Linked DNA regions of Homo sapiens: region 1 is linked to region 2. A link means that fine-mapping ties the variant in region 2 to the plasma level of a protein whose gene starts in the linked region. Region 2 holds a variant in brackets. A gene starts in the other region. All regions are shown on their forward strands. Region 1 holds the start of IFIT3 (interferon induced protein with tetratricopeptide repeats 3). Region 2 overlaps NT5DC4 (5'-nucleotidase domain containing 4).

The links. PIP is the posterior inclusion probability: the model's chance that the variant is causal. The UK Biobank Pharma Proteomics Project read protein levels with antibody pairs (Olink). The fine-mapping took linkage between variants from a reference panel, not from the people measured, so its PIPs are less certain.
Region 1: IFIT3 starts here. The variant in region 2 is fine-mapped to the plasma level of the IFIT3 protein (UK Biobank, PIP above 0.99).

The regions. Positions count from the first base shown.
Region 1 is chr10:89,326,290-89,329,207 of GRCh38, forward strand. IFIT3 (interferon induced protein with tetratricopeptide repeats 3) reads left to right here and starts at 1,708. Exons shown (of 2, transcript NM_001549.6): 1 at 1,708-1,789. The coding sequence starts at 1,785. It also overlaps a transcript of LIPA not described here. RefSeq lists an enhancer at 1,476-1,715 and a silencer at 2,036-2,085.
Region 2 is chr2:112,737,682-112,740,599 of GRCh38, forward strand. NT5DC4 (5'-nucleotidase domain containing 4) reads left to right here. Exons shown (of 17, transcript NM_001393655.1): 17 at 1,232-1,414. The coding sequence ends at 1,255. It overlaps CKAP2L (cytoskeleton associated protein 2 like), which reads right to left. Exons shown (of 9, transcript NM_152515.5): 9 at 1-1,367. The coding sequence ends at 1,142. Among named protein-coding and RNA genes, the nearest start is that of NT5DC4, 18 kb to the left of the region's middle. The variant G/A (reference allele first, on the strand shown) is at 1,195.

The DNA of each region.
Region 1 (2,918 bases), not on the chromosome of region 2:
CATGGATAGAAGTGGAGGTCATTATAAGTGAATTAAGCCAGGCACAGAAAGACAAATTTTACATATTCTCACTTGTTTGTGGAAGCTAAAAATATTAAGACAATTGAACTTATGGAGATAGAGATTAGAATGATGATTACTAGAGGCTGGGAAGAGTAGTAGCGGGGGAAGTGGGGATGGTTAATGGGTACAAAAATATACTTAGATAGAATTAATAAGATCTAGTGTTTGTTAGAACAAGAGGATGACTATAGTCAACAATAGTTTATTGCACATTTCAAAATAACTAAAAGAGTATAATTGGATTGTTTGTAATACAAAGAATAAATGCTTGAAGTCATTTACCCTGATGTGATTATTACTCATTGTATGCTCGCATCAAATATCTCATGTACCCCATAAATATATATATCTACTATGTGTCCACAAAAAATTTTTAAAAATAATAAGAATTGGCTTAAAAAATGCTGTTTCCTGGGCCCCACCCTAGACTGATGGTCAGATACCTAATGTTGACAAAAAAAGTCAAACTCTGTAAAACATTTGAAGAGATTTATTCTAAGCCAAATATGAATGACCTATGGCCTGTGACACAGCCCTCAGGAGATCCTGAGAACATGTGCCAGGCCACAACTTGGTTTTATACATTTTAGGGAGACATAAGGCATCAATCAATACATGTAAGGTGTACATTGGCTAGGTCCAGAAAGGTGGGACAATTGGAAACAGGGAAGCGGGGCAGCTTCCAAGTCATAGGCAGATTCAAAGATTTTCTGATTGACAATTTGTTGAAAGAGTTATTATCAATAGAAAGGAATGTTTGGAGACATCCAATAGAAATTCAATAGACAATCATTAGAAAGGAATGTCTGGGTCGTGGAGACCAAGGTTTTATTATGCAGATGAAGCCTCCAAGTAGCAGGCTTCAGAGAGAATAGGTTGTAAATGTTTCTTAATACACTTAAAAAGAGCATGTTCTGGCTGGGTGCAGTGGCTCATGCCTGTAATCCCAGCACTTTGGGAGGCCAAGGTGGTTGGATCACCTGCTATCAGGAGTTCAAGACCAGCCTGACCAACATGGCGAAACCTCGTCTCTACTAAAAATACAAATATTAGCCGGGCATGGTGGTGGGTGCCTGTAATCCCAGCTACTCGGGAGGCTGAGGCAAGAGAATCACTTGAACCCAGGAGGCAGAGGTTGCAGTGAGACGCAATCATGCCACTGCATTCCAGCCTGGGCAACAGAGTAAGACTCTGTCTCAAAAAAAAACAAAAACAAAAACAAAAAAAGAGTGTGTTCTATTAGTAATTCCAAAAGGAAAAAGGATGTAATGAGGCATATCCAGCTTCCCCTTCACATCAGTTTTCAGGTTAACTTTGGAATGCCCTTGGCCAAAAGCAGGGGTCCAGTCACATGGTTGGTGAGTATGGCCTTAGAATTTAATTTTTTGGTTTACATTAGGAATGCTTCCACATTCTCTCAAACAAATTTTAGTCACAGTTTTGAATAACGTACTCTGGCTCAGCCATTGCAGGTCTCAAGCCGTTAGGTTTCATTTTCCTCCTCCCAACGATTTTAAATTAGTTTCACTTTCCAGTTTCCTCTTCCTTCCCCTAAAAGCAATTACTCAAAAACGGAGAAAACATCAGCTGATGCGTGCCCTACTCTCCCACCCCTTTATATAGTTCCTTCAGTATTTACTTGAGGCAGACAGGAAGACTTCTGAAGAACAAATCAGCCTGGTCACCAGCTTTTCGGAACAGCAGAGACACAGAGGGCAGTCATGAGGTCAGTGAAATAAGAATGCATAATCATGCTTGTTTTTGAGTGCAAATTGTAAGTTGAGTTTCTTACTGTGCAGGCACATTCCTGAATTGTCCTGATGTTTATAGATTCAATATGTCTTTATCAGTCTGAGCATTTGTAAGATGTTTGAGGGGTTTTTCCCTGTGGCTTTTTTTGGTGTACACACAGGCTTCTTAAGTTTCTGGAATGGTTCCCTACGGAACTACATGGGGGGAGGCAGGGTGGGGAATGCATCAGCTCATGTTTCCTCCCTGTGTGCAGCTATTTCCTGCAATGAGAGGAAGGCTTGGCAGGAGCGGTGTATTTCACTCAGCCACAAACTTGGCTGATTCAAGGGTAGACCTAAGGGAATTACTCTTTTGGGTTTTTCTGTTATTGTCATTTTGTTTGAAAAGATTAAGTCACAGGCTTTTTTTCTTGTAATTTTAAAAGGAGGAATTTATTTTCAACAGATATTGTGAAAGATACAATCAGTACTGCAAACCCACTCATGAAGAAGGCAATTTTGCCCTGAAACGTTGCATTACTTTAAGGTGGGAAGTGGAAGAAACAATTCTTACAAATGGGCATTTTTGTCATTTCTTATATAAAAACAAACCCAAAGCTTAGCATTTATTTTTATTGATGTAGTGAATGCTGGTCAGCAGCAAAAAAAGAATTTCTCCTCAAAAGTGTAATGACCTAATCTATTATCTAAAACTAGTCTAATCTCTAATGGTGGGAAGCAGATCAGTGGTTGCCTGGAGATGGTGGGGATTGAGTAGGAAGGCTCCCAAAAGAATCTTTTTAGAATCATAGGAATAGTCTATAGGGAGGTAGTGATGGTGGCTACATATGCATAAACATTTACCAAAACTCATCAGACTATACACTGAAAATGGGTGCATCTTATTGTATATAAAGCATAATCTCAGTAAACTTGATTTTTAAATTTATATATTGACCTCCTGGAGTTCTTCAGGGGATAGCATGTTAGGGAGAACTAAGAGAAAAGGATGCCTTTCCCACCAAGCATCTCTAGGAAAGGAGTGAGGAGGTGATTGCCAGGGAGGGAAGACCCCATCGACCATTCAGGGGGGCAGAAAAGGAAAACTGGATTCCCTACCTTACT
Region 2 (2,918 bases):
TCTGCTTCCCTTAAAAAAATCTAGTTCCTGGATGAGGCTGATAGACCTTTGATCAAAGTCCATTCTCCTTGGTAATGAATGCTCCTTGTTTCTTAGGACAGCCAACTGGTATATCCTTAGACAAACTCCTAATTCTCTATGCAAAGCCATTATCATGGTTTTCTATAATAAATAAGATAAACAAGCAGGAACTAATAGAAATTTAATGTTGTTTTAAGATAATACTTAAATATTAAGAAAGCTAAAATTTAAAATGTGTTGACTAGGTTTTTCTACACAATTATATTTACATAATGACTAAGGTAAAACCTTTCCACAAATAGTTGCCCAGGAGGAAGAAAAAGCAACCTACAACAGTCTCTGGGGCTTGCACTGCCTTCTCAGGCCAGCTATACCCTAGCTGAGCAAAGAACTGAAGAAGCAAGTGTCCACTCCCCACCCCTCTCCCCTGCCCCCCTTTTGTTACTTGAAGTGTTTCTGAGTAACAAATGCAAAACTAGGTTTGAATATAAAAGCTAGACGACCATGCCAATTCAGGATTGTGTTTCATCTGAGGAGACCTGGCATAGAAAAAACAAGAATTCTCTCTCATTTACAAGGATACTGTGATGAAAGTCAAAGATCACACATAAATTTATGATCTCTGAGCAAAGGCACAGCTAGCATAAACTCATCTGTAAAATGAGGGGTTTTGACTTGGCCATCTGTCAAGGTCCATTCAGCCTGTCAAGCTAGCGTCAAAGTTCAGATCTTCCACGATGAAAGAACTTGCCCTCTGCTAAGGTGGATGCAGAAAGAAAAGTCCCATTATATTGTGGGACCAACCTTCTGATATAAAAAACTATGTTGGGATTAAAGTAGATCAATAAAGTATAAATATTTATCATAGTTGTAGGGTAAATATTCAAAAGTTTGAAATTTATGTATACTGTAAAACTGGCAAACTGGTCTTAAACACATAAAGCAAAGATTTTCCCATGGGGAGAGAAAATTTGAGAGTAAGCCCAGTGAATTACTTAAGTCCTGAGCGTCCATAATCTGCATCCATGATGCCTCTCTTTTTTTCCAGGTCACTTGGACAAGAATATTTCTTGTCTTATGTTGGTTCTGAAACACCTTTTTTAAAAAAAGCATCAAGAAATTATGATTCAGGGGTTTGAAACCCCAATGTTACAGGCAGCGCCTCATTTCTAC[G/A]GAATATAAAACATTTTGTTTCTTCCACTTCTAACAGTTCATCAAGAGAAGCCACTACTAAATCGTGTTCCTGCAGCATTTCTGGGTAGCGGGACACTGCTCGCTCAATCCTCGACGAACGCCGTACAGGAGTGATAAATTTCATGTCTTGCACTTCCGGCATCCCATTTATTCTGAGAGACAGCAAGAGATGCATTAAAAACCTTATCATTTAAAAAAATTATCTTTATTATTTTTTGTTTCTTATTCAATAATAAAACAGGGAAGACATTTTAACATAGGGTGATACAAGAGATATGTCTAGAGCAGCTTTCATCTTCAGATGGCTTTTTCTAGGAGTTCGAGACCAGCCTGGGCAACATAGCAACACACTATCTTTACCAAAAAATATAAAAATTAGCTGGGCATGGTGGCACACACCTGTAATCCCAGCTACTCAGGAGGGTGAAGTGGGAGGACTGCTTGAGCCCAGAAGGTCAAGGCTGCAGTGAGCTATGATTATGCCATTGTACTCCAGTCTGGGCAACATGGCAAGACCCCAGTCTCAAAAAAAAGGCTTTTCCCTGATTTCCAGAATGTACTGGGTGGTGTCCATCTGTTCTTGGATGGTGTAAGCATAAGGATTTATTGAATGAAGTATGAAGTGTGGTTTTTATTTGAAGTCAAATATTTGGCAGTTGGTGTTCATTTATTCTATAAACTTTCAAAACAGATGACAAGTTTTAAGGAAATGGGGCCTAATACCAAATTTGGTTGAATTAATGAATTCCAAGATTCTTTCTAGCTTTTTCTTTTTAAAGACAGGGTCTCACTCTGTTGCCCAGGCTAGAGTCCAGTGGTGCAATCACAGCTCACTACAGCCTCAACCTCCTAGGATCAAGGCATCTGTCCACCTCAGCCTTTCAAGCTGGTGGGAGCACAAACGTATGCCAGCATGCCTGGCTAATTTTTTATTTTTCATAGAGTTGGGGTCTCCCTATGCTGCCCAGGCCACTCTTGAACTCCTAGGCTCAAGTAATCCTCCTGCCTCGGCCTACCAAAGTGACAGGATTACAGGCATGAGCCACCATGTGCCCAGCCTTTTCATTTTTTTTTTGAGATGGAGTTTCACTCTTGTTGCCCAGGCTGGAGTGCAATGGTGCAATCTTGGCAGACTTGCCTGCTAGTTTTCCTTAGGCTAATGTAATTAGTGGTTTTGTGAATTCTAGAGCCATTAAGAGGTAGTTTTTGGATTAACTGTTTTCATCTACTTATGAGCTGACTGTAGTTCATCCACTTATGAACTGAACTGTTTTCATCCTCTTATGAGCTGACTGTAGTGGGAAAATGGTGTGTGTCAGAGAGTTTAGGATTGGAAGAGATTCGGCTGTGCTTTCCAGGTAACTAAAACAAAGAACTGTTGTCTTGGTGCCCTTGTTTGGAATTCTTTCCAGATCATGATCAGAGAAGAGTGGTGCTACACTCACATTTTAGAAAATGACACTGACGCCCTGACATAGCTCCTTAAATTACTATGGATTCTGCCTTAAATTTATATTTGTTAAAAAATAAAACGTTTCTGACTTTATGAGCAGTCTCTGACTAGTACATACTCCACTGCTCTCCGTTCTTAGAGGGGTATTCACTGTCCCTTTTCTCCCACAGCTACAGAGTTTGCTCCCGCTTGGGACTTTGTGCCCCATCTTATCACCCCAACCATACCCAGCTGTGTCAGGACTTGCAGG